Linked DNA regions of Homo sapiens: region 1 is linked to region 2. Evidence: fine-mapped expression QTL. A gene starts in region 2. The other region holds a variant in brackets. All regions are shown on one strand. Distances are from middle to middle. Region 1 overlaps SYBU (syntabulin). Region 2 holds the start of SYBU (syntabulin).

Region 1 (14,369 bases), 62 kb after region 2:
TCTACTGAATGTACTTTAGAGCAGCTTCTTTTAATAGTGTCTTCTATAATTGCGTGTGTCCGTTGCTCCTGCTGCTCCTTAATAGCTGTGCTTAGCTTCAGTGAAAATGGTTCCTCTCTCCTCCCTGGAGACCTGTACATTTAAAAATATGTGTATTTTGGGGGGATGGGTGGAGAAGGAGGATGGGAGAGAAGGGTGGGAACTAGGTGGGTTTTTTTTTTTAATTTACTGCCTCTATTTGAGGTGGTCCAACCTGAATTAATTTGATAGCTTTGCAGTGATAAAAGATAAGAGAGGGCTTGGGGTTACTTAAATCAGTGTTTTAGAATGGCTTAATACTGCTTAGTAGATCTCAGGATTGTTCTATACTGTGATGTTCTGATGTATGAGGACTGCTCCATATCTTGAAAACAGGCAAAATTAATAATGTCCTAAGAGACCAGATTACAGGCAGTGCTTTAAAAATAAGTCTAGTTAGTTATCAGTTTGGGCACGTATTCTTTTTGTTTTCATTTTTCCTTCCTTTTCTAATTCCCTGGCGTTAGCATACATGCACAGAACGCTTATTATCCTAACGTTATAAATAAAAGGAATATCTCTCAAAAGAGTTCAGCAGTGCTATGAAAACAAAAAACTGCCAGAACTTCTGGAGGCCACTGGGCATAGGTTCTTGAGAGTTGGAAAAGTGCCTTCTGCAGCAGGATGCTTAGTCACCAAGCGTTTGGCATCAGAGCATTATCTTAAAGGTCATCAAATTCATCCTGTCTGTTCAGTCCTGGGATAACACTCCACTAACCTGGCAGCTGATCGAAAACAATATTGATGAGGAACAAAGACTGTTGATGAGGATGACATTCATTCTTTACAAGCAACCCATGAAGCAGGTGCTATGAGTATCATCTTTATTTAACCAATTAGGAAACTGGGACACAGAGAAGTGAAGTAACTTGGCTAAAACTTTCCACCTAATATGGGTTAGGAGCAGGCTTTGAATCCAGGCTGTCTAGCTGAGGTCCTACGTTTTTTCTTTTTGTTTGTTTTGTTTTTTGTTTTAGTTTTATTTTTTGAGATGGAGTCTTGCTCTGTCACCCAGGCTGGAGTGCAGTGGCATGATCTTGGCTCACTGCAACCTCCAACTCCCTGGTTCAAGCAATTCTCCTGCCTCAGCTTCCCAAGTAGCTAGGATTACAGGCGCTCACCACCACACCCAGCTAATTTTTGTATTTTTAGTAGAGACAGGGTTTTGCCATGTTGGCCAGGCTGGTTTCGAACTCCTGACCTCAGGTGATCCACTCACCTTGGCCTCCCAAAGTGCTGGGATTACAAGCGTGAGCCACCATGCCCAGCCGAGTTTCTATGTTTTTAGGTTAGGTACTCTGTGCGTGATTTTAATAACCCCAAAGAGCACTGAAAACAATACCTTAGTTGCATACACTGTTTAAAGGAAATGAATAAAGAATGCCTCTCCTTCCTTGTATCTTTGTTGCCAACTAATAGATAAATGGCGGCGGGGGCGGGGGGTGTGATTAGGTCTCCAGCTTTTCTCTTAGTTATTTTGCTTAGTACATGAAGAAAGTATATCAGATGATGTATTACATTTAGCTTTCCTGTGTATCCCTTAAAAAGAGTTCACTGATTTTTACACTGCATTAACCAGGTTACGTTCTTTAAATTCATGAACTGAAATAGTTGTGAAGTAGTATATACATTTTTCACTATCGTACTATTCAAATAGGCCTGAATGCAGCTGCAGGGACCCGAATGTGCCTTCTAATCTCTTTCAGATGTACAGAAGGTAAGAGAGGAAAGTGCTGAAACAAAGTGACCTTAGGCCCTGCAAATACATAAAAGTCAGTATATTGAGTTCCAGTAGCAATAAAATATAGAACAAAGTTGTCCTTTCAGTTCAGAGAACATAATTACCACAGATCAGAAGCACCGTGGGGTAACAATGGATTTTCCGCAATTATCTGTTCCTGTTCTAGAATTTCTGCTTTTAGGCAAGCAGTTCAATTATAATCGATGGGCTTTTGTGAAAGGAATGAAAGCTGAGTGTTTTTCAGAGTAATAATTTCACATTAGAAAATAGTATCTTAAACCTGATGGCTGTAACTGAAGGATCTATTTTTGAAAATCACCTACCTTTATCATTTAATAACCAACCTGATAATTTACTAGCAAACAAAGCTGGTTGAGTTAGGCCGTCAGGAATCTCATGCTGCTGGACTGCATTACCAATCATGAATCCTTCAGATTGTAAACTACTACAGTTTAACCAGTGTATTCCTTAGAGTCAACTGATTAAGTTTGGGGAGCTTCTAGGAGCTCATTACATCATTAGACAAAGTCTCTGCAATCCAGAAGGAATAGCTGGTCTCAGTTCTGATAAACTACCTTGCTAATCTTCCCAGAATTCTACTGGGAGCCAGGAGTCACTGCTGTCATTTGGCTAATGGGTCATTCTTGGTCTCTTTCCTAGAGACCTGGACTTGCTAGAGGCTGGAGTTCCTGAGAGCTCCTGGAAACCAGGGAAAGGATTTTTTCTTCTCTCTGCCTTGTGATTACCTACCTTCCTCTCTAGCAAAACTAACAGAGGCCATCAGAAAGAGAAATCTGTTCCCTAGTAGGCCAGAGTCTGGCCACATCTTGTACCTATGGTTCATGTTGACCTTTTAGGGAGATGGTAATGTATAGTTTCTTTAAGAACTTCTCCTGTTCCCCTGCTTCTTCCTACTGCCTTTCTGAGGGCAAAGCATAGTATGGGAGAAGTAGCATGAAGATTTGGTCCTGGACAGGATTTATCACCTATAAGCTTCAGACAAACAGCTTCAGTTTTCTCAATAGTAAAATAGTGAGATTAATGTCTATTTTACAAAGATGTCAATATTAAATAATATATAGCATAGAAAGTATCGTGAACAGGGCCTGGGACCTAGTAAACACTCAATAAATAGCCATTGTTATGATAATTATTGTTCACTGCTTGTTAGAAAATCAAGGATTAGGCTATTCATATTTTCTTTAGCTCAGAAATGTGAGCTGGCTCTGGGTTCTAGACCAGAAAAGGCACAAATTATGTGGTAGGAGTTGAGCAACAAGGTCAAATTAAACTGTATACCTAGACTTATTTTTCAGAAGCACATGGTACTTCACGTTTTTAAAAAATTCTTTTTCTTCTTCTCATTGTCTAGCTTGCCTCTTCCACCTCCCCTTACTTCCCCAGGCAGTGTATGGGAATGTTTCCATTATTACTCTTTCAGAACTACATATTTTTGTTAGAATGAATTTATATAAATTATTTTACTGCACAGCATATTTATATTATAATTACACACCCACCTGTTGTCTGTACTCAAAGTATCATGTGATCTTTGCAAACTAATGAACATCCCTACCTGTAATCCCACCCTGAAGCTAAAATTCCAAATTTCAGTGTAATTTACAGGTTCTATCACTGTTAAATTTCTGCTTTTCTGTTAAGGATCTATTCTTTAAAGAAAAACCAAAACTGCAGTCAGAGAAAGTCACCTCAGATAGTGCCAGTGCAGCAGTCTGGGAGCCCAGGCTTTGCTCTTTCCTGACTGCCTCTCATTGGTTAACTGTCTCCAAACCTAACTTGCCAAATTGAAGTATGAGTAGCTGACTACAGAAGCCCAAAGATAAACTCTCTTGGAAAAACTACTCTTGGACTGATAAGTATTTTATTTTTCTTTTGCTTGAAATAGGGTGAGCCCGTTGTTGTGGAGTGAGAGCCTCACATACGGGAGAACAGTGCATTTCTTGATGCACTTGGGTCACTGTTGACAGTGTCTGCAGGAAGACTGGCCTCTTTATGAAACCAGCCTTACTGTGCATCTTAGCTGTGTTTATGAAATGATGTTCTTGTACTGGGCCTTCTCTTGACTGCTTTGAGGAAAATGCTGTGAGCCTGGAAGCCCTGGAATCTTGGCACTTGCCAATAGTGTGCAAACGCAGGGAGCAGGGACCTGGAAGGCAGGGAACTGGCCAATGTGTTCTCTAGTTTCCTTTCCCTCACGCTTCTCTCTCCCCTGTTGTTTTTCAGGTAGTGAAGCTGATTTTAGCTCCTCGAGCAGCACAGGCAGCATTTCCGCTCCTGAGGTCCATATGTCGACTGCGGGAAGCAAGCGGTCTTCTTCTTCACGCAAGTAGGCACCATCTCCTGCTCTGTAATTAAGACGCTTTACACAGGTGACTCACCTGCACCTGTGCATCTGTAGAACCACCCGGATTACTGTCCGTTCATATTTTATTATTCAGTGAGGCTTTTTGTTTTGTTTTTTTACAGTGATTTTAAATTGGTAGTTTTTCCTGTCTTGCCAACTGTGGTCACATGGCTCACCTGTGTTTGTACATCCATGGCTGTCTCCCATCCAACCCTTGACTCTATGCCCACTCCTCCTGTCCCTTCTCTCTTTCCCTTACTCACCTGTGTACTCATCTGCATAGGAAGCTAGTGGTCTCCCACTTCCCTCCTACCTCCCCTCTGTGAAGCTATGAGTCTCTTAGCTGTGAAGCCTCTGACTTCACCCTTTTTTTCTTCTAGCTGGACTTCCATTTTTAACCTCTGTGAAGGAAGCAGCTACTCCCTGACCACTCCCAGCATTTACCTGGGGAAGGAGTGAAGAAAGTGTAGTAACGTTCATAGGCATGGTGGCCACCCCATAGAGCACACCAGCTGGGTGTGTGGGCTCTGAAACCAGGCTGCCTTGGCTCAAATGCCAGCACCACCAACTCCAGGCTGTGTGGCTCTGAGCAAGTTGTTTAACCACTCCATGCCTTGTTTACCTTATCTGTGAAATAGACCCAGCCACCTCAGAGGGTTTATTGTTAGGATTAAACAAGTTAATAAAAGTAAAATGCTGAGTCAGAGCATGGAGCATAGCAAGCATCAACCAATTCTCTCCATTGATGTTATTTGAATTGGTGGAGAGGACTATGAGACATGGGAGCCACTATGCACATTCAGTGGGAGGGACTGTAAGCCCCAGGATTCTGTGCTTGCCACCAGTGGCTTTGTTTATTCATTTAACAAGTATTTATTGAGCATCTACTATGAGGAAACAAAACTCCACAAAATTATATTCATTGTAGTAGGACAAGAAGGACAATAAATTGAAAAATAATATAATTATTTTTAAAAACACTCAGGGGAAGGAGATAGAGAGTAATGTGGTTTGTGGTATATTTTAGCTTGGTGGGTCCTAGGATACCTCAGTGGTGAACTGAGCTCTGAGCAGAGACTTAAAGAAAGCTATGGAGGGAGCCACAGAACGTGAGGGGACCTGGCTTCTGACTTTGTCACGTCACTTGATTCCCCTGGGCCACGGTATCCAAAAGACAGTTGTACTGTGTGACTTTTTAAGGTCTCTTCCTGGAGAAAATCTATTTAGTTTCCAAAAGCCTGCCTTTCCAGGACTCAGCAAGCAAATATTTTCTATTTCTCTTGGGTGAGCTGAAGATTTAGCAGATGTTTATAAGGCGACCTGAGACCCCCAGGGCACAGTTTTATCATTAAAAATACAGCTGAAGCCAGACAAACCTGTAACAAAAGAGTGAAGTCCGCAGTAATAAAGCACAATTGCTCTATCCCCAGCCCCCACCCACCACCACCATTTTGGCAATAAAGTGCCTCTGGGATTATAGGACATGAATGTAAACATTCTGTGTAAATCAGATGTGGCTTGCTCTAAGAATAAACCATTTATATAACCCACTCAAGAAATTATGACATACACATGGAACAAAGTATCAAACAATATAGAAAGGCAAAAAGATAAAAAAGGAAGGCCTGTAGATGAAGCCAACTTAAATATTTCAAAGGAATCAGTGTTTGTGGTTAAATTCCAAGGTTGTGTCAATAATACAGAGTGACTAAGAGAAAATATTCTAGTCTAGAATTCATGGTCAAAATTTGACATATTAAACATAAAATAGCCAAATATAATTATATGCAAATCAGATGAATGCTTCTGTTAGTATCTGTTATAGCCAAGCAATAATAGACTTCAAAGGTTTAACAAAAATTAATAGATGGAAAATTGAAAATGGCAGTGTTCTATCCATTATCCTCAGTTTTTAAAAATCTCAGCCATGCACAGTGGCTCATGCCTATAATCCCAGCACTTTTAGGAGGCCAAGGCGGATGGATCAACTGAGTTCAGGAGTTCAAGACCAGCCTGGCTAATATGGTGAAACCCCGTGTCTACTAAAAATACAAAAAAAAAAAAAATTAGCCGGGCATGTAGGTGGGTGCCTGTTATCCCAGCTACTCGTAAAGTTGAGGCAGGAGAATTGCTTGAACCTGAGAGGCGGAGGTTGCAGTGAGTCAAGATTGCACCACTGCACTCCAGTCCTGGGCAACAGAACAAGACTGTTTCAAATAAGTAAATAAATAAATAAAAGAATCTCACCCAGGCACAGAGTACCATCAGTAGATTTTGGTCATGGACTATCTCAGCAATGTCACATAAATTTTGTGTTCTGGAGGGCCACGCATGGGGGGGCAGCTCCTCTAGAGTAGCTGGGTATCTCTGCCAAACTCTGTAGTAGTTTGTGATCCTTTCAATTGGCTGCTTCCCCATGTAGTGAATGAATTTTCTCTGTGGAGAATTAGCTCCCTGAAGGAAGGCTAACAGGAAGATTGGTCAATCAGTGGGACATGTGAGGAACAGGTGGAGCTGGTGAGAATATTTTTGACGAGTTATTTTTAAAACAAAAACTTTAAAGGCTTACAGAGTATCTTGTCTCATAGAAGGGCAACTCTGCTGATATTTCTAAGGAATTATCTTTCTTAAACTAAAACATGAATCTGTTTGGAAGATAAAAATCAGACAGAAAAAGAAAAACCTTGGGATTTGGAGTCAGACAGACCTGGGATTGAGGTTAGCCTCCATTATTTATCAGGTGTATGACCCCAAGCCTCAGTCTCCTGTTTTGGGATATGGGATAATAATAGCATCTTACCTCACTGAGTTAAATGAGATGATATGTGTGAGTGCTTGACATGATGCCCAGAACTTAGTGAAAGCGTTGGTAAAAGGTGGTTTTTGTCAGTAGGGGTGAAAGTAGTACTAGGAGACATGGTACTGTTGCTGTTGCTGCTGCTGCTGCTGGTGGTGGTTATGATGGTAATCATGGTGGTAGTGATTATATTAGTCTGCTAGGGCTGCATAACCCAGTACCATAGACTGGATGGCCTAAACAACAGAAATGTATTTACTCACAGTTCTGGAAAAGGGAAGTCTGATACCAAGATGTCTGCAGGGTTGGCTTCTTCTGAGGCTCCTCTCCTTGGCTTGTAGTGGCCATCTTCTCCCTGTGTCTCTACAGCATCTTCCTTCTGTTTATGTCTGCTCAAATTCCTTCTTTGTATAAGGACACCAGTTAAACTGGATTAGGGCCCACCCTAACTGCCTCATTTTAACTTAATCACTTTTTAAAGCCCCATTATTCTGTGGTACTGGGAGTTAGGGCTTCAACATATCAATTTGCAGGGGGTGACACAGTTCAACCCTAGATCATGGTGATGATGGTGATGATGATGATGACGATGATGATGATATTACCTGAAGTCCAGAGCCATGGTCAGGGAATCGAAATTCACCTGAGTCACTCATGAGGTGTCATCTTCACTCCTCTGTCTATGACCTTCTAGTTACGTATTCAGGTTTGTAGAAGGGTTCAGGGTCAGCAGAATTTTCTTTCCTCTTTGTGGACTGCGTTTTTCTTGTCCACCAGACTGAAGGATCTGGGATGGGCTGAAGAGGACAGCATTGGGTTTCACAGTTCATGGCCATGACAAACATGGAATCTCAGTGTCTCCTTTGAAAATGTTTCCTATCAATGCCTATAATGAGTTTGCACCTATACATGTTAGCATTTGAACTACTAAATGAAGAGAACTGATATTTTTAAGCATGTTGCTTCTTTTTAAAAAGTTAGCTCTTACAAACTGTCTGATAATTTATTTCCTGATCAATATTCAGAAAGCACCTGAAACAGCGCCAGGGTCACAGAAGGTCCTCAGTGGAAGTTAACTCGTAATAAAATTCCCCAGGTCAAAATATGGGATAGCTCTTTACATTCCTGCCTAAGGTGTAATAGCTAATCTTCCATATTTCTCATAATCAGATTAAGAAATAGTCTGGTTGATGCCAGACTTAGAAGTGAAGCATGGAAAAGAAAATGCACACCAGGGTACATGTTCCTTTCAGCTACTCATGAAGTTCTTTCTACCATGGGCTGCTGAAGTTGGTTTTGTCACAAAGCCATCAGCCCATCTGTTCCGTATAAAGTGTCCTCTTCTCACGAAGAGAAGAGCGGCGTTCATTTGAATGATTTCAAAAGGAAATAACTTTAACTTTAGAACTTGGTTACGTTTTATTTATGTCTGATTTGCAAGGTTGACAGCCAGTTGAAATTATATTTGATTGTAAATAAGTGATCATGGTTTTGAAGCCAAGTGTACCCACATGCACACTTGCATTCACATTTACACACATTTCTCATTAAGATGTCAGTTGGATACAGCTGTAATTAAAATTGCAAAGAAAGGTTTGTCAGAAAGCAGTACTACTATATGAAAGCTATCTTGTTTTCTCTTTTTTTGCCATCAAGTAATATTCCTGACATAGAACTTTATCCTGTTTAAGTAATTTCAACATTCTCAAGATGCTTCCTTACACTACTGGGTGTCAAATCTCTGTCAGGATTAATGGTGAAGTTTGAACAAGTTTATCCTCTAATAATACTCTACAGTTGAGTTACCCTTAATAGCTTGTGGAATGTACTCACATGCATTCTTTGATTTGATTTTCACATCAATTCTGTGAGGAAGGTAGGAAAGGGGTGGGTGTGTGTGTGCATGTGTGTGTGTTTTGATCCCCATGTTAAGTGGCTCACTTGCCTAAGTTCCTACTAAGTGGCAGTGCCAATGACTCACACCTGGTTTATTTATTCAGCAGTCCTTTAGGGAACACTTACCATGTATCAAAAGTAGGAGGATAGAAAGAACAAGCTGTTTCTGCCCTCAAGGTTGCCCTAGCCTAGCAGGAAGGACAAATAAGTATGCAGTTGTGACGCCATGTGATAAGTCCAATGGTAGAAGTTTGCACAGAGTTTTAGGGAGCATTAAGGAGTGTGCCTACACTGGCCTAGGGAAGGAAGAATATAGAGAAGGCTCTTTAGAGTACGTTCCCATCAGTCTCAAAGTAGGAAGTATCCTGGTATCCAGGGGCTTAGAGAAGGGAGCAGGTGAACATTCTAATTAGAGGAGATTATGAGTTCAAAAACCTAAGGATGGTCAAGCATGGATCCTTCAGGAAACTGTAAGTGATTTGGAATGCTGTAGTACAGAGGGAGGAGGGAGGAGTGAGGAGTGGTGGAGGATGGGGTTGGATGGAGTAGTGGGATTGGACCTTGTGAGCCATCTTAAGGAGGCTGGCCTTTGTTCTGGAGGCAGTGGGGGACCATCGCAAGGCTTTGAGGAGGATAGTGAATCAGATTCCATTTTGAAAGGCCACTCCAGCCACAAGCCAACCTTCTACTGGAGGGAGCAAGGCAAGAGGCAGGAGAACCAAGATGGGGCTGTTACAGTATTTCAGCAGTTAAATGACAAAGGTTGTCTTAAGTCACTGGGGCTAGAAG[A/G]AAATGAAACAAAAATTTTAAGTAATCAAAATTACCAATGATGCATTTATGTGTGCTCTGTTTATCTTGCCCTGTTTTCTCCTCCTCCTGTATGGGGTACCACCTTCCCCCATCCTCCAAATGAACCGCATTAATTTTCTTACCCTGACATGAACCAAATGCAAATATTTCTAAACTGAAACAGGTGGACTAGAACAAAAACCATATCTTGAAAACAGCCTCCAAAATAAACAGCCTCCAAAATAAACCTGAGCTAAATCAATATTCTACATTGTGTATGTTCTTAGCAGGCTATTGGGTGTTATCCAAAAAAAGCTTTATGGTCAGAAACTATTTGAAAGAACAACAGAGGGAGAGGTTGCTTGTGCTGATGTCACAAGGAGAGAAAATACCAGGCAGGTGGGAAGAAGGCCGCTCCTAAGGACAGTCTACACGAATAATTGTATTGCGCCTTTCAACTCTATAAATTGGATTTCCTTAGATTTAAGGAGTAAGACATTAGCCCTTGGGCATCTGTAGCCCCAAGAATTTTAACATTTTTCATTCTTTTCTCCCAGTCGAGGTCCTCATGGGCGGAGTAATGGAGCTTCGTCACACAAGCCTGGCAGCAGCCCATCATCCCCGCGGGAAAAGGACCTTCTGTCCATGCTGTGCAGGAATCAGCTGAGCCCTGTCAATATCCATCCCAGTTATGCACCTTCTTCCCCAAGCAGTAGCAACTCAGGCTCCTACAAAGGAAGCGACTGTAGCCCCATCATGAGGTGAGTCCTGCTCACCTAATTCATGCATCTTAGTTTGTCCTACTTGGTAAGCTTTTCTTTAAAAAAGAAAAAAAAAAGTTATACAACTCTTGATCCCTTGCCTGATTCTACAAGACACTGCATTTTTCTTTCCCACATTCGGCTCATTCCTCAAGGGCTGCTGCAGAAAGAGCGCAAGCCACAATTTCTAACAAGGCACAGCAATCTAAGCAGTTCCTGAATAGGGAGAGAAAATGCCACAGAGGCAGCAGGAGGCTGAGGCAGGAGAATTGCTTGAACCTGGGAGGCAGAGGTTCCAGTGAACCGAGATCACGCCACTGAACTCCAGCCTGGGCAACAGAGCAAGACTCCATCTCAAACAAACAAACAAACAAAAACAACTTAAGATGATTCTGTAGGCACCTGTTGCTACAGGGGTGTGTGAAAGGTGGGGAGGGTGTCCAACGCAGTCTGGAGCGATCAGGGGTGGCCTCCCTGAGAAAGTGAAATGGAATTGAGGTCTGAAGAGCAAGCAACAAGTTAATTCATATGAGATTGTAGGGAGTGTGGAGCAGAAAGAAGGAACTGCATTTCCAAAGAGGCCACGACAGGAGGACTGGATGGTGGGCATGGACACAGGTCATCTTGGAGGCAGGCAGGTGCTCAGGGAGCTGGCAGCATAGTGGCTGGGACTGGGTCCAGAGTCAGGGAAGGAGCTGGCTGCCCTCCTCCTTCGGCCTTCTTCCTGCTGGGCATCCCTATTCTCGTCAGTCAGCTCTCTTACAGCAGGGATTCCCAGCTCCCAGCCAGGCCTGAGAGGGGCCAAGATTCCAGCAAGGGCTGTTTTGTAAAACATTGAGCCTGTCTTACAAAACACACTGGGGAGAGTTAAGTAGAGGAAGAAACTTCTTCCCTTCAGAAGAAGGATCTTTCCATTTCCTCCAAACTGGCATACTCACAGCAGGGATTGATTTTAGAACAACTTGCATTCAGCAAATAGCCATCAGGATCTTTAGGCAGTGGCACACTGTGCAGAAAGTTAGGTCCTCTGGCTGGCTTCCTTCTCTTCTGCCCGGGCCCATCCCCTGACCCTCACCCACTGTGCTGCATGTTACTCTGAACTGACAGCTCAGGCACCTGGACAATGGTGCATTATTTTGTATGAGAACATTCCTAAGCCATAGAGAATTCTCCTCCTCCACGGTCCCTATTCTCTCCATAAATACACCAATACCCCCTTCAATCTTCAAAGTAATTAACAGTCCTAAGATCGGCAATTCTATTACAGCTCACCTTCTGAAGTGAGGTCACCCATTATTGAGGTTTAAGACCCCAGCACACAGCTACCATTCCTTCTCAAGCTGTTAGCTGTGTCTGGGTCAATGTGGGTGGCTATAACAAAGTACTCTAGATGTTGGTCCAAATCTTTCGAGAACCATGGGCTACATACTGTAGGTTTAGGTCTGAGATCAGGGTGCCAGCAAGGTCTGGTTCTGGGAAGGGCTGTCTTCTGGGCTGCAGACTGCTGACCTCTTAATGTATCCTCACAGGGTGGAAAAAGAAAGCTAGAAAGCTCTCTGGGGTTCCTTTTATAAGAGCATTAATCCCATTTATGAAGGCTTCACCCTTATGGGCTAATTCCCAAAGTCGTCACCACCTAATACCGTCATATTGGGGTAAGAAGTTCAACATATGAATTCTGGAGGGACACAGACATTCAGTTGATAACACTCTGTGTTACTCTTCTTTTTATAGAAAAGGAAACGGCAAAAAGTAACATTTCATTACTTGGATTGTTTCAGGCGTTCTGGAAGGTACATGTCTTGCGGTGAAAATCATGGTGTCAGACCCCCAAACCCAGAGCAGTATTTGACTCCACTGCAGCAGAAAGAGGTGACAGTGAGACACCTCAAAACCAAGCTGAAGGAATCTGAGCGCCGACTCCATGAAAGGTGAATCTGCCTTCCTTGAACGGTGGGGTGTAGGACAACTTCTTTCTCCATAAAATGAAATATGAACCCAAACTATAGAAAGATAGAAAAGAAAAAATGATTGTATTCAATTTTGGTCAAATTTTTAAAGTCAGCCTCTGAAAAGAGTCATTTCATAACTCTGTGTGATATGGCTGTTTCAGGAGTTCAGGGAGGCCCGTAGGTTAGAGGGGAACCTTTGTTTTTCGTTGTTGTTGTCGTTTTTTGTTGTTGTTGTTTTGCAGTGTATACAGCTTTGATGTGAAATAATCAGGTGTGTGCATGACTATTTTTAAATGGCAAAAACACGTGCGGGAACAATCCCATACTTCCAGCAGAATGGGTCACAACCGTGGACCAATTAAGCCGTGTTTATATCCGTGCATGAATGGATATCTGTGTGCATTGTGATTCCTGCATGCTATTTCTGTGCCGAAGGAAGGGGCTCATTGTTCTTGGCCAAGTGTTAAGGCTGAAAAAAAAAAAAAGCCCATGCTTAAGAGATCTTATCTGAGGGAGAAGACTTTTGACATCTGGGCAGCAGGCCAGTTTTTCTGCTTGATCATTTTCCCCTGGAACATTTTGGAACAGACCAGGAAAGCTCTGACCAGGGTAGCTGTGAGCTCAGGGTGAGGGTGGCATGTGCATTCTCTAAGAGTCTGGGCTACCTGATCAGCCCAAACCTCCTCTTCTGCTGCCACAAAGATATAAAGAAAACTCAATACCTTGGTTGCTAAAACTGTGGGCAGGTAAGGGTGCAGACTGCGAGGAAGGGAAATTTTTCATCTTCCGAATTAATCTGGCTCATCATCTGTCTGAAATAGACTTGAGACCCAAACTCCCCTCTGGGGTGAGTCAGACCTTATGTCTGGAAGTGTTTGGTCTGTGATTTGCAGAGTCCATGGGAGGATTGGAGCACTCGAGGAAGGAATGGGAATGCAGCAAAACTTGGGAAAATATTCTAGCCTAAACTTAAATGAGCAATATTGATGTCTCTTCATATATATGAGGATCCTGACTACCCTATCTTCATATCCACTGAGAATGTAAGGACTGAATATGAAAAAATTATATATAAGAAAGAATTTATATACAAAGATCTTGAAATAGGGTTGTCCTGTGAAGGATCTGAAAAATAGGATAGATTCTCCTTAGTGTAGGATGAATTCAATATTATCCTACCTGAGAGGAGACAGAATAAGCAGCTTGTCATCATGTAAAGTCCCTGCCACGTGTAGCATTTTATTATTTCAAAAATGTTTATCATTGGAATACCATATGAACAATTTAGCAAGGCTAAAACTTATCAGTCTACCTTCTGTCTTAGGTAATTAAAAGTGAACTGGCCTTCCACAAACTATAGACATTTGGAAAGGGTAGGATATGGAGATAAAAACAGGCTAACAGATGCTAAGATGTTCTAATAATAAAGTTTCAAATATTAAGGATTGAGTAGAAGATAAGACTTGTAACACAGTGCAATATCCGACCCATAATGAGTACTCAAAAAAAATTGTGGTAGCTATTTTGATTCTGATTCTGATTACTATTATTACTTTAGCCATTTTACAAGTAAAGAGAAAGTTCACAGCTAATCTCCGCCAAAGAGAAAATGTACTGCTTCTTTCAGTTTAGGCTGGAGTGTTTTCTCAAGTTTTTCTGTGTTCTCTTGAGTTCCCTGCATTGAAAACTGATTTCACATCTGTATTTCAAGTGGAAGAGTATGAGCTCTTGGCTCTGTGCCAGAACTGCCTGAACTGCCTGTTGCCCAGTTGAAAGTTTTTTTTTTTTTTTTTTTTTTTTTTTTAATTAACCATGCTTGTCTTGGCACTCTAGGGAAAGTGAAATCGTGGAGCTTAAGTCCCAGCTGGCCCGCATGCGAGAGGACTGGATTGAGGAGGAGTGTCACCGGGTAGAGGCCCAGTTGGCACTCAAAGAAGCCAGGAAAGAGATTAAACAGCTCAAACAGGTCATCGAAACCATGCGGAGCAGC
Region 2 (16,758 bases):
TCAAAAGCCATAGTATAATTATACCTAACTAATCAGGTAGATTGGGATAGATCTCAGTAAGGGGATATATGGGAACTCTCTATACCTTTTAATTTTTTTTGTAAACCTAAAACTGCTCAAAAATATAAAGATTAGTATTTTTTTAAAAAATAAAATAGATGCCTAGGAATACATAATGTAGTGACCATATGAACATCATTTATCATTATTGTTTTAGAGAGATTTACCTGACTGTTCAGCTAAAATGGAATTACATAGTTTATCCTCCTCTGGGTCATTGTGAATTGAGGAAGGGGAGAAGAAAGGAGACCAAGAAATCTATTGTTAAATCCCCAGTTTGTACAAGGGACTATGCTGGGCTTATTACAAGTGTTATAGAATTTAATCCTCAAAATAGACCTATGAAGTAGAACCACGCATGTATTTTACAAATAAGAATACCAAGATACAGAGATGTTACCTAGCTTGCCTAAAGTGGTTCAGCAGGTAAACAGAAGAAAGGAGTTTGGAACCATTGTCTATCAAAGCACCTGCTCATTATTTCACAACCACCAAATAATGTTCCATTTATTGACATCCAGTTTCGTATAGCCGTATATTTTGAAAGTTTTCTGAAATTGCCCTGAGAGTTAGAATAAAGGCATTATTAACCCTTATTACGTTTCAGGCCAAGAGACTTTACCTGTCAAAAAAAAATTTCATGAACAAATCCATAGGTGGCAGTATAACATGGTGTTCTTAAAATGTCAACTATTGCTAATTAACAAAACACCAGGTATTGTCTTGATGCCGTCCTAGGTGATCAAGATTTGAGAAAAATCCCTTTCTTCTAGAAGGTTACATCCAGGCAGTAAAGATTCAAGGGGAAGCCCAAAAGCTGTTTTCCTCCGCATCAATCCTTGGGGCCTGGACGGTGGCAGAAGTATCTCAAAGTAGGGAAAAAAAAGGGAGAGAGAGAGAGAGTAGAAAAAGAAGGAGGAGGAGGAGAAAAAGGAAGAAGAAGAGGAGGAAGAGAGGAGAGGAACAATAAAGAGAAAGGAACTCTGAAGAAACCAGATTATAATAGGATGTATTCAATGCTTCAAAATTCATCTTAAAACTCACCCCTGAACATCTCAGACCCCAGTCTAATTTAGATACTGGCAAGCCCTCTGGGTGTCCAGATCTCATGCAAACACACTGAATAGTTTATCAGCTGATGGTCATGTCCGTGTCTCTATTAGACCTTGGGACACTTGAGGCAGCAATCATTGTTCATCTTTGAATACTTCGGAACTAGTGGCTGAGGCAGTGCATGGCTCAGAATAGGAATGAAGTAAGAAGTGATGGATGGATGAATGAATGAATGAATGAATGAGTGATAGGTGTCTGTGCATTCATCATGCCTTCTACTCTACCTTCTGGAGGAAAAGTCCTGGCAATATCTTTTCTAATGAGAAATTCAGTGTCCTCCTTTATATGCCATAAGTCATCGAGAGAAAACTTATTGCTTCCCTTTAATAAAAATTAAGATGAAACTTTTTAGGATGAGGTGAATGTGAAACAAGCAAGCAAGACACAGCAATGGTGGTTGGAGCCATTTGATCCTGAGGGACAGAGGATATCTATTAAGCTCTAACCATGTGCCAGATATAAATGCTAGGCTTTGCGTCTGTTCTTATCTAATCCCTATAACTGTATTATGAACTAATTACTGTTATTAAGTTTATTTTCTAGATGTGAAAATGAGGCACAGAAAAGTTAATTTGCCCAAAGACATTAACTAGTGCAACTGGTTCTTCTTTCCTTTTTAGCTAATGTGCACATACTGAATGTTGAGTCCTACAGGGGTTAAATAACTTGACTGGAGTAGCACTGTCAGAGCAAAAAAAAAAAAAAAAAAAAAAAAAAAGTCTCAATTTCAGGCCTATGAGACTCAAGAATTCATGTCCTTTATTAAACTACATTTTCTCATCACAGATGTTTTTCCAGACTTGGGAAACTCATTTCACTTTCCAGTGCTTCCCTGAATTAGGTTCACATTATGGCAAGCTGGTAGCTGGGCTTCTGATTAGAAAGGGGCACAGGTACTTTTCTACCAGCCTCTGAGTTAAGGTCATTTCTCCAGCCTTAGCTTTGCTAATTCCCCACCAGCAACTTTTTCTGAAGCTTCAGATGGGTCCGGTCTCCACCAGGACCAGATATCTAGGAAGCCATCCTGAAACTTCTAGGCTTCCAGCAGCAGCCTCAGCTGTTTGTCAGTAGTGATAAGGAGGCCCGAGATCCCTGTATCTCAGATCAGTCCCTGATAATCTGAGAAAAGACAGAAGGGAGTAGTAACTTCACTTGCCATATGCCACTTAGAATTTCATTCTTATTTTAACATGCTGGTTTTGATGCACAGTAGATAAGCCTGAAAGTAAATACATGAAACTGCTAACAGAAGGAATAGGGATAATTGATGTTAAGGCAATGAGATAATGAGTATCTTTTTTCTTTTCTAAAATTTTTATAACATGGTTTAGTATCCTTTTTTAAGAAAAAAATAGTTATCATTTTAAAAAGGCATATTTTTTCTCTTGATAAGCAGAAGTAGCTAAAAAGGACACATGGGCAGATGAAACTACATAGGCCAGATTCCCAAATTCTAGTTTTATTTTCCTACAAATTCTTCTGCAGTGCGTTAGAGAGGAGCTGGGAGTACACAGCAAAGGCTAGCTTTACTCACAAGGTCACAAGATTTCAGGTATAAAGGACAGTGGTTCACAGGAATAACCTAGGAAGTGGGAATAAAGCAGCAATCAAAACTATCCTCAGCTCTACAACTGCACCAGTGACCCCCACACCAACAGCCCAACCATTCCCTGCTGTAGCTGCCATCATAGTAGTTGGTTGGCCTCTGGGGGTGCTCAGCTCCATTTGGCAATAGTGTTCTTGCTCTTTGAGAAGAGACACTCAAAGTCTTCCTCTTTTGCACCTGCTCTCATTTTCTCAGCAGAAATAAAGACAAAGTTATTTTTTAAGATGTTTACTAGAAAGTGGAAGCAAAAAATATAAAATCATGGAAATAAAGTGCATTATGGAGAACATATTGTTTTTAATGTAACTCAAATCTACCATTGTTCTGCTTTCCAGGAACCCAGATTACAATTTTTTTTCTAAGCCTAGACTGCTATGGATGCTGAGTGAACCCCTCAGAGCCTCCAGCCTGTGTATCTGCTCTGTGTCTGGCATGTCTGAGAAGCATCCTCTCTCTATAGCTGCCCTCCTGGGTTCAGGCAACTTTCAGCTGCTTTTCCCACACTTTCTGGTTTCTTGGGGAAGGAAGGTGCTTCTCTATTAGCCCCAGAATTCATCTACTGGATTTAGGCTTTCCTTTTCATGTCTTACAGATAACATCCTTTGCCTTTTCTGTACACCTGTGAGACCAACAGATTGTCTAATCACATGAAGCATTTCACTAGGTAAATGTCAAGTCTCAGTTTCCCCTACTTAGATGGCAACCTTTACACGCATACTTTCCAGAGCGTCTTAATTTCAATCATTCTGATTCATTTTCCTAATAAGTGTACACCTACTTGTCCAACAATGTGTCCCCATTTTGTTTAATGCAATCACCGTGCCTATGTTTTTGACAAATATCCTACCCTATTTTCAAAGATGAACCAAAGGCCACAAACAAAAAGCCATTTTGGGGGAGGCTATCTCATGTCTGCTCTCCCATAAGGCATCAGAGGATTAGACCCTTACCATCCTTCAACGTTCCAAGCCCCCAACCTCTGCCTCTTCCCCTGGACTTGCCCTTAATTTCTGTTATTCACTGAGAGAATACTCTGACTGAACACTCGTTTGTCGGGCAGAGATAATTGACACATTCTGAGCCCAGTGAATGTTCAAGCATGGCCTGCCTCAGGTTACCCACTGCCCTCTCTGCCCCAAGCACCTCTATGCCACCTCCTGGGGGAGTGATCTTGTGCAATTCTAGTCATTTCAGTTTTACAGCATCAAAGTACCTCAACCTATAGTAATGATAACACACATACATTAAGACAAGGGTTGGGCTGGGCACGGTGGCTAATGCCTGTAACCCTGGCACTTTGGGAGGCCGAGGCGGGCAGATCACGAGGTCAGGAGATGGAGACCATCCTGGCCAACATGGTGAAACCCCCATCTCTACTTAAAATAACGAAAATTAGCTGGTGTGGTGGTGCGCGCCTGTAGTCCCAGCTACTCAGGAGGCTAAGGCAGGAGAATAGCTTGAACCCAGGAGGCGGAGGTTGCAGTGACCTGAGATCGCACCACACTGCACTCCAGCCTGGCGACAGAGTGAGACTCTGTCTCCAAAAAAAAAAAAAAAAAAAAAAAAAAGGAGGAGGGTTGATCAATCACACATGCTCTTATGGGAAAACAGGCAGCTCTCTCCCTGGTAAGAAAAATATGGGTCTCCACCCCACCCCACCACACACACAAAAAAATCTCACGATGCCCCAGAATGCAGTTTCTTTCCTTCGTGACGTGTTGTGAAGCACGTCAGCTGCTCCTTGTTGCTGTGCAGATCACCCAACATTAGGTCACCGAGAGAGACAGCAGCTCTTGCTCACACAGCTGATAGGATTAGGAGATGGTGCTTTGTCAGCCCTGATTGAGCCCAAGAAAACCCCCTGCATACACAGGTGAGATGTGAGGAAGAGTGAATGTGAGGGACCGTGATGTGTCTGGGTTGTTTGGTGCAGGCGTTTTCTTTTCAGCAGTGCATTTGTATTGTCTTCTCTGTGAAGTTTGCAGTCTAGGGGATTCCTATTAATAAAAATCTATGCTTTTTCAGTTATCTGGTCTCAGAGATTGGCCACATGTACCTCACGGGATTTTTGTGAGGCTCAAATAAAATTATATATGTGAAAGAGTTCTGAAAATATAAAGTTTTGTGCATACGAAAGGTAGGAATCATTTAATTACAAATTTCACATAAACAATCAAGTAACTTATCCCAGATTTGAGGGAATAATTATATAAAGACATTACCTTCCTTCCCAGTCTACAATACCCTATCTCTCCTGTGCTTTGCCAGGAGATATATATATATATTATATATATATATTATTGTATATATATATTATTATATATTATTTATAATATTTCAAGGTTAAATCCTAAAGCAATTGATATTTTCTAAAAGCCAGAAATACATTAATTTTTAAAGAAGCCAAAAGGTGATAAAACAAGACCATAAAGTAAGTCTTTAAGTAAAAAATGAAAATGATGCATAAGACTATTTTAAAGCAGGGGAAAGAAGACCATATTATGCTGTATTAGATTATATCTCTTTGATGGTATAATCCAAATGTTACAAGACATTTCTTCTAATGACATGAGAAACACTTGAATGAAATTAAGGCGGCATAGATATTATCATCGGTAAAACTTGCCTTTTAGAACAGTGGAAAAACAGGCTTGGGTTCCAAAAGTACAGAGCTAAGAGGCATCTGAACACTAAATCATCAGCCTTTCCCTCTGCTAGGTTGCTATGGCGACAGCAAGGCTACTGCACAGCCTCTCAGTGCCTGCACTTCTGCAGTAAAAGCTGTCACTGAACACATGTTGGATTTTTTAGGCACACACCCAATCATCAGATACAAATACATTGTGGAGGCAGCTTTATCTGAATCATTTTCAAAACAAGTTGTATCTATGTTCTTTATCTTGCACTGATGGGCCCCTTATGGGGTTATAGAATTCACTCATTCAGGCATTAATTCATTTGACAGTTATGTATTGAGTGTCAACTGTATAACAGGAATTGTACTAGGCACTGCCTACAAGCTTTGGTGAAAACAAACAAGTAAATGGGGAATTCTGAGGAGATCATAACAGCTCTCTTGGGGGTAAAAATAAGTGTCCTGGAATCATCAGGGGAGGTTTCCTGGAAGAAGCTGTCTAAAATGAAACAATGTATCTTTAAGAGTTGAGGAGGATAGGTGGATGTAGTGCAAGAAATGTTCTAAACAGAGGCAGGTGCAGCAGTCTCGACGAAAAAGAGAATACAAAACCTCCACCTCCGAGAACTGAAAGTGCTACAGTTTGAGCAGTATCCATTTGTATGTAAGGGAAGAGTGGCAGGGACCAAAGGGACAGGTTAGGGAGGGGAGGGAGTATCTACAAAAGAGAGGAGTGGCAAGAAATGAGATCGGAGAGGTAAACAAGGCGGCCAGATCAGGAAAGCCTTGTGTGCCACATTAAGGAGTTTCAGTATTACCTGGAGGACAATCAGGAAATCATTAATGAGTTTTCACGGAGAAGCATGACTTGATTTAGCTTTTCATAAAGGCTTGTGGAAAAATGGAGACACTGATCGGAGAGAAAGGAATAAGAGGCAAGGCTGAAAGCAAGAGACCTTGAGTTAGACCACTATTGCAATAATCTAGGGTGACTGTGGTTTACACTCTACACGAAGATAATGGAGACAAATAGTGGACAGAAGTAATCAGATTCAAGACCGTTATTACTTGGGTGGCATAGAGATCACTTGGTGGTTTATGCTATGTGTGGGTCAGGTGAATGAGAGAAAAAAGTCCACGATGACACTGAGGTTCTGACTTGGCTAACTCAGTGGAGGGTGTTTCTGCTATTAGGTCCCCAGTGTCAATTCTCAATTCTAAGTAGGGAACTCAGAAGCATCCATTAACTTTAAAAGTTTGTTCTTATCTCACAGTATATGATCCCAGGCTCATAATTTTAGGAATAATAAGTTGTATGAATCATCCTGGACCATCACTTTCCTGAGGTCCATATTTGAAACAGCTGTGGGTGTAGAAAGTATGAATTAATCACCTCTTCTTCCCAAATAAAGAATCTTAAAATTACCAACCTCACTGCTTGAGAGAGCTAAGTAGATTGAAAAGGCATGAAGATTTATGGAGGAAGCTCTCTTTTGGAGTTATAGGAAGAAGGGAAATTGATTCCACTAATCCTCTGGCTTCAGGCTCTCTCTAGACTCACAACATATATTCTTAGGCTTGAGAGTTGAGGACTCAGAAATGCTGTTTGGAGGATGGATGAAAGGGGACAATGACCCTCAGTTTTCGAGGAGCACAGTCCTCCTATGTAGGACACTGGTGCATAAGGATCAGAGTGTCGCACTGCTTGGAATATTCTCCAATTCTGAATAAAGGGTATATAAGTCATTATACATGGTGAATTCCACCACCAGATAAGATTTAAGGGTAGCAATTGTAATAAATCAAGGCCCTTGGCCCAGCTGATGTACCCTATTCTAAGTCCCCAGTTGGACAGATTTTCGAGCTTTCTTAAACAAATTTGTGTGCATCACAAATGCTTTTTCTGCCTGTCATGTAAAAGGCATCAACAAATATTGACTGGATCATCTGGACCTGACTTAGCTGCCCTTTGGAAAGTTCTGTTCAATCAGCTGGATAGAGCTGTTTGTTTTCCTCACCTAACCCTCACAGCTATCCTAGAGGTAGGTATCACTATTATTATCCCTCAATTTAACAAGGGTAAATTTGAAGTTCAGAAGGGTCAAGAACCGTAGGCGTAGGCCACGCATGCAATGGCATCCGCATGTAATTCGAGCACTTTGAGAGGCCTGGACGGGATGATCCCTTGATCCCAGGAGTTAGAGGTTGCAGTGAGCCCTGATCGCGCCACTGTACTACAGCCTGGGCCACAGAACGAGATGCCGTTTCAACAGCAACGGAAAAAAAAAAAAACAAAAAACGAAACAACAACAAAAACTTTAGGCATAAAGGCACTCAGGCTGAAGGGACCGATTGGAGTGCTGGCTTGAACTCGTTTTTCTGAGTTCAATTCCAGTGCTCTTCCCTTAGCAGTGTGCTGGAGCTACTTCCTGGAGCCGGGCAGCTGCAGGGCAGCGCTGGGGAAAAGACTGTTCTCTGGCTACATAGCAGCCTGGCTTCTCCAAGCCGGAGGGAGCTGCGCTGACCACTGAAGGCCTTTCTGATGCAACCCCTTCCAAGTAGAATCCATCGCAGCCTTTCAGATCCCGGAACCCAGAGGCTGTGTCGGTCCTGACGCACTGGCTTGGCTGGGCTCCGGTACGAGAGGGATCTCTGCAGCTCTCGGGCGAGGCAGTTGTGGGGAGCTGTAGGCTGACTTAAGACCTGGAGGCCAAGGAGGGGTGGCCAGGGGAAAACTTTCTCTATTTTGTCTCTCTGTGATGTCGCAGCTTTTCTCAGTCACTCCATCCAACGCCACCCACTTCAAACCTGAGATCAAGTGCAAAAAAAAAAGAGGGTGGGGTCACCCCTGGGCTGGAGATGCCGCTAGCCGCAGCCTGCCTACACCGGGCCGAGCTCCTTGGAGAGGGAGGGACACCGGCTCTGGCTGGGGGGGCGCGGAGTGCCGTGGGGAAATCGGGCGGGTGGGGCGCGCCCAGGCGCGGTCGAGTTGCCCCGAAGGCCGCAGGTGAGGGAGGGCGTGGGAGGCGCCCCAGGAGCTGCCTCTAGCGAGTGCGGCACCACGTGTCCGGCCGGGGCGGGGTCGGGCGTGCCCTCGGAGCCCAGAGCAATCGGCGGCAGTGGCGGCGGCGGCGCGTTGGAGCCTCACCAAGAGCCGCCGCCCGCAGCCCGCGCCGGCTCAGCGCAGTCTCCTCGCTCCGTGCTCGCAGGTGCCTCCTCCTGGACGGCGGCAGCGGCGGCGCGAGGAGCCGGCGGGCAGCGGCGCGATGGGGCCCCTCCGCGAGAGCAAGGTAAGGAGCGCGGGGCAGTGCGGGCACTGGAGGGCGGGGAAGGCGGGCACTGCGGGGCGAGAAGCGGCGGGATGAGAGCTGGAGGGGTGACATTTAGAGTCTGGGGAAAGGTGGAAGGAGGTGGTGGTGGGGTCTGGAGAAGGCAGGAGGCATTGCTTAGGAGTTGAGATCCAGGAGATGGGGAGGTGGTACTGGAGGAATAGATTTTGGAGAATGACATGATTGGAGGGTTAATCCCACCTCCTGAAACTGGGACTGTGGGGTGTAGCTTTCAGTTGATATCCTGTGTGTGTGATGTGAATGAAAGGAATTTGATGCATCCGCGACTGGGAAAAGAGGACTCCCGCGTGTCAGTGACCCTGCCTTAGCTCAGGGTCTGCGGTGTGCCCGGCGGAGTGGCTGGCGCATGGTACCTGCTGGGCGGCAGATGTGCAGGGCGAATCCGAGGCTGCGTGCGGCTGGCGGCCCCCGGGTAGAGTGGATGCCTGAGGGCCCTCCGAAGTTCCCCATTGCTGAGGTTTACCCTTCAATTTATGCCATGTGCCGGCCTCCCAGAGGTGTTTATTTTGGCCGTGACCCTTCCTGGTAAGCCGGTGGAAGGAACAGTAGGTCATGTTTCGAAAGGGTGTTTGTTACCTAAGCCAAAGAGTCCCTTTCAGTGGCAGAGGTTGGAGGAAGCAGTGGAATTTTTGCAAAACGCTCCTCCTAGGAATCCATTTTCATAAGGCAGGGTGGTGGTGACCCTGCAAAGCACTGGATTTGAATTTCGTTCTACTTCTGGCATGGTGTGCAGAATTGCCTAAGCATCTCTACCCCATTTAGCCTGTTTCCTCATCTGAAAATAGGGACATTCATTGGTGTGCTCTCTATGTACAGTCTGGTGTGTAAAGATCAAATGAGAAAATGGTTGGAAAAGCACTTTATAAGTTGGAAAACATTGTGAAAATATTACTGTTACGCATTTTTAAAACCACGAAATGGCAGGGTACTTCATGCTGCGTTTTTAAGGAGAAAGAAAAATCTCTTCTTATGGATGTCCTGTAAGGAAAACAAAAATTAAAGATGATGTAAAAGGTGGAGCCATCTTCCCGAGTATCGGATTTGTGTTTGCTTTTCTGTTGGCAACAAGCCTTGTGTACCAGGATATTAACGAATAATTAAGATCCTGTCCAGAAGAGGAGGGATTTTAAAGATAATTGTGTGTGAGCTATCAGGAAATAACTGTTCCAGGTATAGGGTTCAACTTTGTGAGGAGACAAGAAAACAAGTCAGACTGTCACAGCTAATTTAGGGAAAGCAAAATGGAAGTCTGAAGGCTATCAAGTAAGCCAGAGTGTGGTGTTAATAAAGAGCCTTTGGGAGGCAGAAGCTTGAATGTGATAGAAGTCAGGGTGGGAAGGTGAGTCAGGACCAGCATAGGGAAGTAGGATGGCCTTCCAGCTAGTGAGTGGAGGTGTGTATATGTGTGTGTGTGTGTGTGTGTGTGTGCCACACAGACATGTGCTATTCAGTAGATTAGAAAGGTTAACTCATTGGAAGAGTTTTGAAGCTCATTTCAGCAACTGAGATAAGAAGGACTACTCTGTGAAGACTCAATACTCAGAAATGTGATTTCTTAGAAATTGATCCTTGAAGGAACCGACAGGAGTTAAGAGAGGGAAACGCGTTTCCTTTTGTTTTCTTTTTTGATGTCCAATTTTGAGAAGGAGCACAGAGTGCAGCATCATGACAAGGAGATTTCTCGAAGCCGAATTCCCCGGTTGATTCTTCGGCCCCATATGCCCCAACAACAGCACAAAGTGTCCCCAGCCTCTGAGTCTCCTTTCTCTGAGGAAGAGAGCAGAGAGTTCAACCCCAGCAGCTCTGGGCGCTCAGCGAGGACCGTTAGCAGCAACAGCTTCTGCTCAGGTACAGTACCCTCGGGAGGCCACCAGAGGCGTGAAGCGTGTGCACTGCAGGTGCATTGTGAATGGGCCCATACTGGGTCCCTTATAGCCTAGAACTACACTTCTACTATTAGGATGAATTGTAGAAGGTGGTACATTTCTGGCTGTTGTGACCTACAAACACAGCAGTTTCATATAGTTCAGTTTATTGGAATCTCACACCTGAATTTTCATATGTTATTCTAGCTTATAATTTCGAATGTAAAATCTAACTTCTTGTTTCTATGACTTTTTTCCTTTGTTTTATTATACTTTAATTTCTGGGATACACGTGCAGAACATGCAGGTTTGTTACATAAGTATACACATGCCATGGTGGTTTGCTGCACCCATCAACCCATCATCTACATTAGGTATTTCTCCTAATGCTATCCCTCTCCTAGCCCCCACCCCCTGACAGGCCCTGGTATGTGATGTTCCCCTCCCTGTGTCCATGTGTTCAACTTCCACTTATGAGTGAGAACATGCGGTATTTGGTTTTCTGTTCCTCTGTTTAGTTTGCTGAGAATGATGGTTTCCAGCTTCATCCATGTCCCTGCAAAGGACATGAATTCATCCTTTTCTGTGGCTGCATAGTATTCCTTGGTGTATATGTGCCACATTTTCTTTATCCAGTCTATCATTGATGGGCATTTGGGTTGGTTCCAAGTCTTTGCTATTGTGAACAGTGCTGCAATAAACATACGTGTCCATGTGTCTTTATAGTGGAATGATTTATAATTCTTTGGATACATACCCAGTAATGGGATTGCTAGGTCAAATGGTATTTCTGGTTCTAGATCCTTGAGGAATCGCCACACTGTCTTCCACAATGGTTGAACTAATTTACACTCCCACCAACAGTGTAAAAACGTTCCTATTTCTCCACATCCTCTCCAGCATCTGTCCATTCCTGATCTTTTAATTACTGCCATTCTATGACTGTTTTTAAAGATGCATTCCTTTGTTAAATGTAGAAAAAATATTGGATTGAATTTTATACTAGCAACTTCTAGAAGCCTGTGTACCTCTAATTATAAAATTCCCCAAAGATAAAGCAATTCCTAATAAATGAGGTCAAGATCAAGGAGAGTTATAGCCTAAGGCTGGCCTGGCCTTATGGTTTAGTAGGGAAGAGCCCAGGCTTTGTGATCTGTCAAGCCTGAAGGGCTGGAATCCCTGGCCCTTTCACCACTTACATACTGTGTGACCTTCAGCAAGTTGCTTAACCTCCTTAAGCCTTAGTTGTTACATCCATAAAATGAGATTATAATACTTGCCTTGTAGAGTGGCTGTGAAGTTGAATGAGACCAGTACCTAAATGTTCACCTTACACGGTACCTGGCTTACAGAAGTGCTTAATAAATGATGGTTCTTAATACAAGGAACTATGGATGTCTGTTTGGGCACGTGATTAAGAAAGTTTCCTTAAAGTTGTGAGCATGTTTGGTAAGGGCACAAATCTCTTGATAGTTCCTGAAGGTGCCACCATTATCATTTGACAGAGCTTTTTATTCCCATTGAAGCACATGACTTAGAAGGAGTTACTTGAGAAGTATTAGGAATTTGGGTAAAATTTAAAGGAGTGACTGTCTTATGACTAGTGAAGAATGTTTCACAGTGGATAATGTTTTAGAACTTATTTAGGGAACATGGAACTTGAAGATTAACACATGTATGAGAAGAAACACATGAATCAGGATGCTATGATTAATGCTCTAATTTAGCAGGACCTAACATTCCACTGCATTTAGGGCTCACAGCTACATTTTTCAAGGATTTTATAAATGCAGCTTTGGATTTATTACATACTTCCACAAAGTTATTCTGTCCTCTGCATAAGTTGTATGTTGGAAATTCTGCACTGCCTACTTTTTTTTTTTTTTTTTTTGCTAACTAATTTTTTGCTAACAATTTGCTAATCAAATTGTCTGCTTGATTCTGAAAAAAAAAACCCTATCAAAATATTATGTTTTAAAACTTATTTCTTTATATTTGAATCACATGAATCTAGTTTAAGATGGAAACCCACTGCTGCTTTGCCTACTATTCCCCCAAGAAGAAAACAAAAGGATAACTGAGAAGCTATCACAGTTAGTATTCCTAGAATCTAGAGTCATATTTGCAGAATGTAATGCTGTTTACTTTAACTCTGTTTTGGAGCCCAGAGCTCACCCTGGTGAGTGTGGATGAACTCTGGGCACGTCATTTCAAACTGACAGAGCTTTGTGTACATAACTCAGTTCCACATTTATTCCTGGTATTCTCTCCCTGTAATCAATTCCTCTGTGAGGGATTTCAGGGTGAGTAGTGTTATCAGAAAAAAAGAAAAAGTTGTTCAAAACAACAACAAAAAAAAGGAAAACCCCAAATATATTTTAGAATATATGAAGGCAAACCAATATGATTATTGATTTTGGTTATGAATCATTCTTCCCCGGACCCACTTCCTGAATCATCCTCCTTCCTAGGAGACCTGTCTCTGGCTAAGGCTATAATGCTGTACATGAAAATCGAAAGTAGATATTGATCTTTTTGCTATTAACTAGATGAAAATTGAGTGGCAGAAGCATATAATTATGGGTGTCTCTGAACAACCTTTCAATCTTGAGCCTTGCACCCTGCCTGCAGATAGGATTTCCTCCATTCCTGGGCCTCTCCCTCATCTCTCTTCATCTTCCTGTGCTGTCAGTTCCCCAAGGTTTGAGTCTAATGCCTTTCTCTTCCTTTCCTACAGAACTCTGATAAACCCCACAAAGGCTTTTGAGTGCTGTGTAGGCTAAAATTGACAGCAGCAAGGCCTTTGGGGGCATGTTAATGATGCTTTAGGAGGCCGGTTGGTGGGTGGAAAATAAATGGGTTTGGTACTACAGGGAGTGTTAACGCTGGAGGCAGTGAGATAGAGAATGTAAGACATGTCCAACCAGCAGGGGGAAATCGCTCGTTTTAATCCAGCCACTCCAACACTGAGGCCAGAAGGTGTGTTCGTTGTTTAATCACGGCAGTTAAGTCAGAGAACAAGGTGCATACAAATATTAAAAAATACCATCCTTTACTAGAACAAAGCTAAAATAATTTAAAGGGATCTATTGTCATCATAGCTTCGCAACCTTCCAGTAATCCTCCTGTATTAGCTTCTCTTCTTTATAAATCATCACATTCACTCATGTAAAAGGGGCCATGCCTAGTTAAGGGAATTCTTACAATCTGGTAATGAAATTATAGAGGAAGGTGTCACCTCAAATGCAATGAAATTTAATTTGAAAATTACATTTTCAGAACTGCAAACTGGAGACTCTTTCCTCAAATCTATATCAAAAGCATTAATTATGAAAAGCGTCATATGTTCTAAAATTTTTACTTTTTTAAAAAAGATAATGTAATGAGCTTCATAAACATTTATAAACATTTATTTAATACAAAGAATTATACTTTATTTTGAGAATCTGGCTTTTCTATCATTTGTAATGAAACAAAAATTCATGATAGTGGATGGTAGCTATACTTCAGCAAAACAAATGTCAACTCAATGTTGATGTTTTCTCTACTCCACCCTCAAGTTTTTCTTATAATTTTACCGGCCTGTGAAATGAAAAGAATAGAACTATTTCCAAAGTGATCTGTCCATTTTTACCCACTTTCTGTTTTCCCTCCGCACTCCACTGCCTCCCTCTTGCTTTCCCATGGGAGCTTTGGCAAGGAACATTTAATGACTTGATATTCTATATGCTAATTTGTATGTTGTCTCTGCCTCATTTCAGAGGGAAGAAGTTGTGTGTGACCTTTTGCAATTCATTTGGGGTGTGTCCCCAAAGAGCTTTGTTTTTTTTAATCGCTTCTTCTTAGCGAAATTTCTTTGAAGATCTGCATGTGTTTTGTGCATTTCATCAGCACATGAGTGTTTTTGTGCTTGGACATCATTCTAGTCTTCAAACAGTATTCCTCACAGTTTGTACTCAGTCTTGGTCGCTATGACCTTAGTTGGAGACAGTTAAGTTTATACAGTATTAGAGGTCAGGCCCTATTTTATGTGCACAGCAAGTAGAACATTGTACATTATTAATAAATATTAATTAATGCTTTATTTTAAAAATACGTAAGGAAGTACAGTTAATAGGAAGTTAATAGAAACAAAACACCTCCTTTCCTGTCCCCTTTTAAAAAAAAAGTTTTTTGTTTGTTTGTTTGTTTGTTTAAACCAGCGTTTTGGCATAAAGTCAACCTGTCTTTTCTCCCCCATGTTTCTTGTTTTTAACACAAGAAGTGATAAAGCCCACATTGTTGGTTTGTGTTCTGGGTTTGGCCCATTGAATGTAGCCTCTATCCATTTTTCTCCCCCTTTTCTGTAAGTAGTGAATTGTGTTTGTTACTGTACCATGACCCTAGCCACTGTTAGAAAAGCCGATGACCTAGGTGAGTGTGTCAGGCACATACATCAGTCACCTGACATGGTTAGCAGCATGCCGTGCATTCCTCTTTGCTTAGTTGAGGCAATAATTACCCCCTTAGAACTGAGAGGCAGATGGATTGCTGGCTTTTAAGCTAGTTCTCCTTGGGGCGCCTTGTAAACATGGCAGGTGGAACAAATTATGCAGATAGAAGACTAGTTGTTTTATGGGAGAACAGTAATTTATCTGAGTTATTTTCATGTTTCTAATGTGCACACACAGATACACAGGCAAGTGTGCGACTTAACGCATTAAATACATGTACCAGGTCAATTTTTTTAAATGGTCAAAATCTGAGATTCTTTGCAGTCTAATCCCAAGTAAGGTGTTTGCAGAAAGTATTTTGTTATTTACAGTAGCTGGGAAGAAATCTTTCTTTGAGTGCCAATGACCTAGAGGTAATCATTGTTGCTGTTTGTGGCACAAGCAATTAAGGCAAATTATAACCTGACTGGTGCCCTGTTGAGGCATGACAACGCCTCCAAAAATTTGCCAGGCCTTGCCAAACAGAAATATTTCTCCTGTGCTTTTGTACAGTTGGGGAAACTTGGCATCTGGATAGAGTGAAGCTTTGAACATAATGATTAGAACTGAGATGAACTGCTTAAAGTGAAGTGAGCTGCAATTCCAAATTATACTACAGTTGAATGACTGCTACCCTCCTGTGAATTTAAAAAAAAAGACCCTATCAATTTAGTATCACTTTAATGAGACCTAGGAAATGTAGTATAATAAATATTTCAAATGCTTAGCAGCCTCACCACAGAAGCATGTACCTAATGAAATAGATTATAAACGAAAGGCATATAGGCAGTATTTCTTTGAGAATGTGGTAACTGCAATTTGCCAAGAGCAAAATTTTTGCCATTTAATCAACAATTCTTAGCAGTAGGAATGGTGAAAAGTAAACATGATGGAATTGGACTATGTCTGAAAGCAAATTAAGGTACTTAACCTGAAAATCTTTCAGGTTCTAAAACACCTGTCTTTATGAGAATGTTTTCCAATTTTAGAGTATGGTGTTTGCCTGCTTTTGAATCCTCAGTAAAACTTGTTTAAAATTCAGATACAATGGCCTTACCCCAAAACTATTGTCTTGAAATGAAAGGGCTCAGGAATCTGCATTTTACAGGCTTTCCAGATAACTCTTGTGCACACTGAAGGCTGAGCCTCACTTCTTTGTGGTCTGTGTGTATTTGGGGATTTGGTATGAGGAGTATGAGGGGTATGCCCAAAGTAGCATCACAAGATGAATAAGGATCAAAGATGGTAGAAACGGTGGCCAGCCAGGCTGTTTAAACCAGTGACCATGGGGCAAGGTGGATGTGGAATGATGCCTCCACAGTCCCTGGAAATTGTAGTTGCTGACTCTATATTTACTGGTCCCATGTCATTAGTCTTAGCCATAATATTATTTATGTCTACATAATAGGTTTAACTTGTGTTCAGATGGTAGCAAAGTAAGGAGGAGGAGAAAGAATTTCCTTTTTTATTTTCCTATTTATCCTCTTTCTGAATTTACTATATCTATACTTTTTACTATTTTGCATATTCTTTTTGTGATATTGGGATGATTTGGGGTTACGCCAAAAGGGGATATACTGATACCAAGAGTATACCCTGAACATCCAGTAGATTCACTGAAGGAGGCAGAAAGAAAAGAAGCTGAGGCCTGGAAGTG

The links. PIP is the estimated chance that this variant, and not a neighbour inherited with it, causes the effect.
Region 1: its variant is fine-mapped to the expression of SYBU in nasal epithelium (TOPMed, PIP 0.99).

Annotation. Positions count from the first base shown.
Region 1 is chr8:109,575,857-109,590,225 of GRCh38, reverse strand. It overlaps SYBU (syntabulin), which reads left to right. Exons shown (of 7, transcript NM_001099754.2): 4 at 4,064-4,166; 5 at 10,224-10,427; 6 at 12,209-12,358; 7 at 14,213-14,369. Among named protein-coding and RNA genes, the nearest start is that of EBAG9, 43 kb to the right of the region's middle. The variant A/G (reference allele first, on the strand shown) is at 9,667.
Region 2 is chr8:109,636,582-109,653,339 of GRCh38, reverse strand. It overlaps SYBU (syntabulin), which reads left to right and starts at 8,518. Exons shown (of 7, transcript NM_001099754.2): 1 at 8,518-8,704; 2 at 10,408-10,612. The coding sequence starts at 8,681. SYBU-AS1 (SYBU antisense RNA 1) reads right to left here and starts at 9,211. Exons shown (of 2, transcript NR_161375.1): 1 at 9,118-9,211; 2 at 2,612-8,222. RefSeq lists enhancers at 7,834-8,153, 7,815-8,751 and a silencer at 8,264-8,753.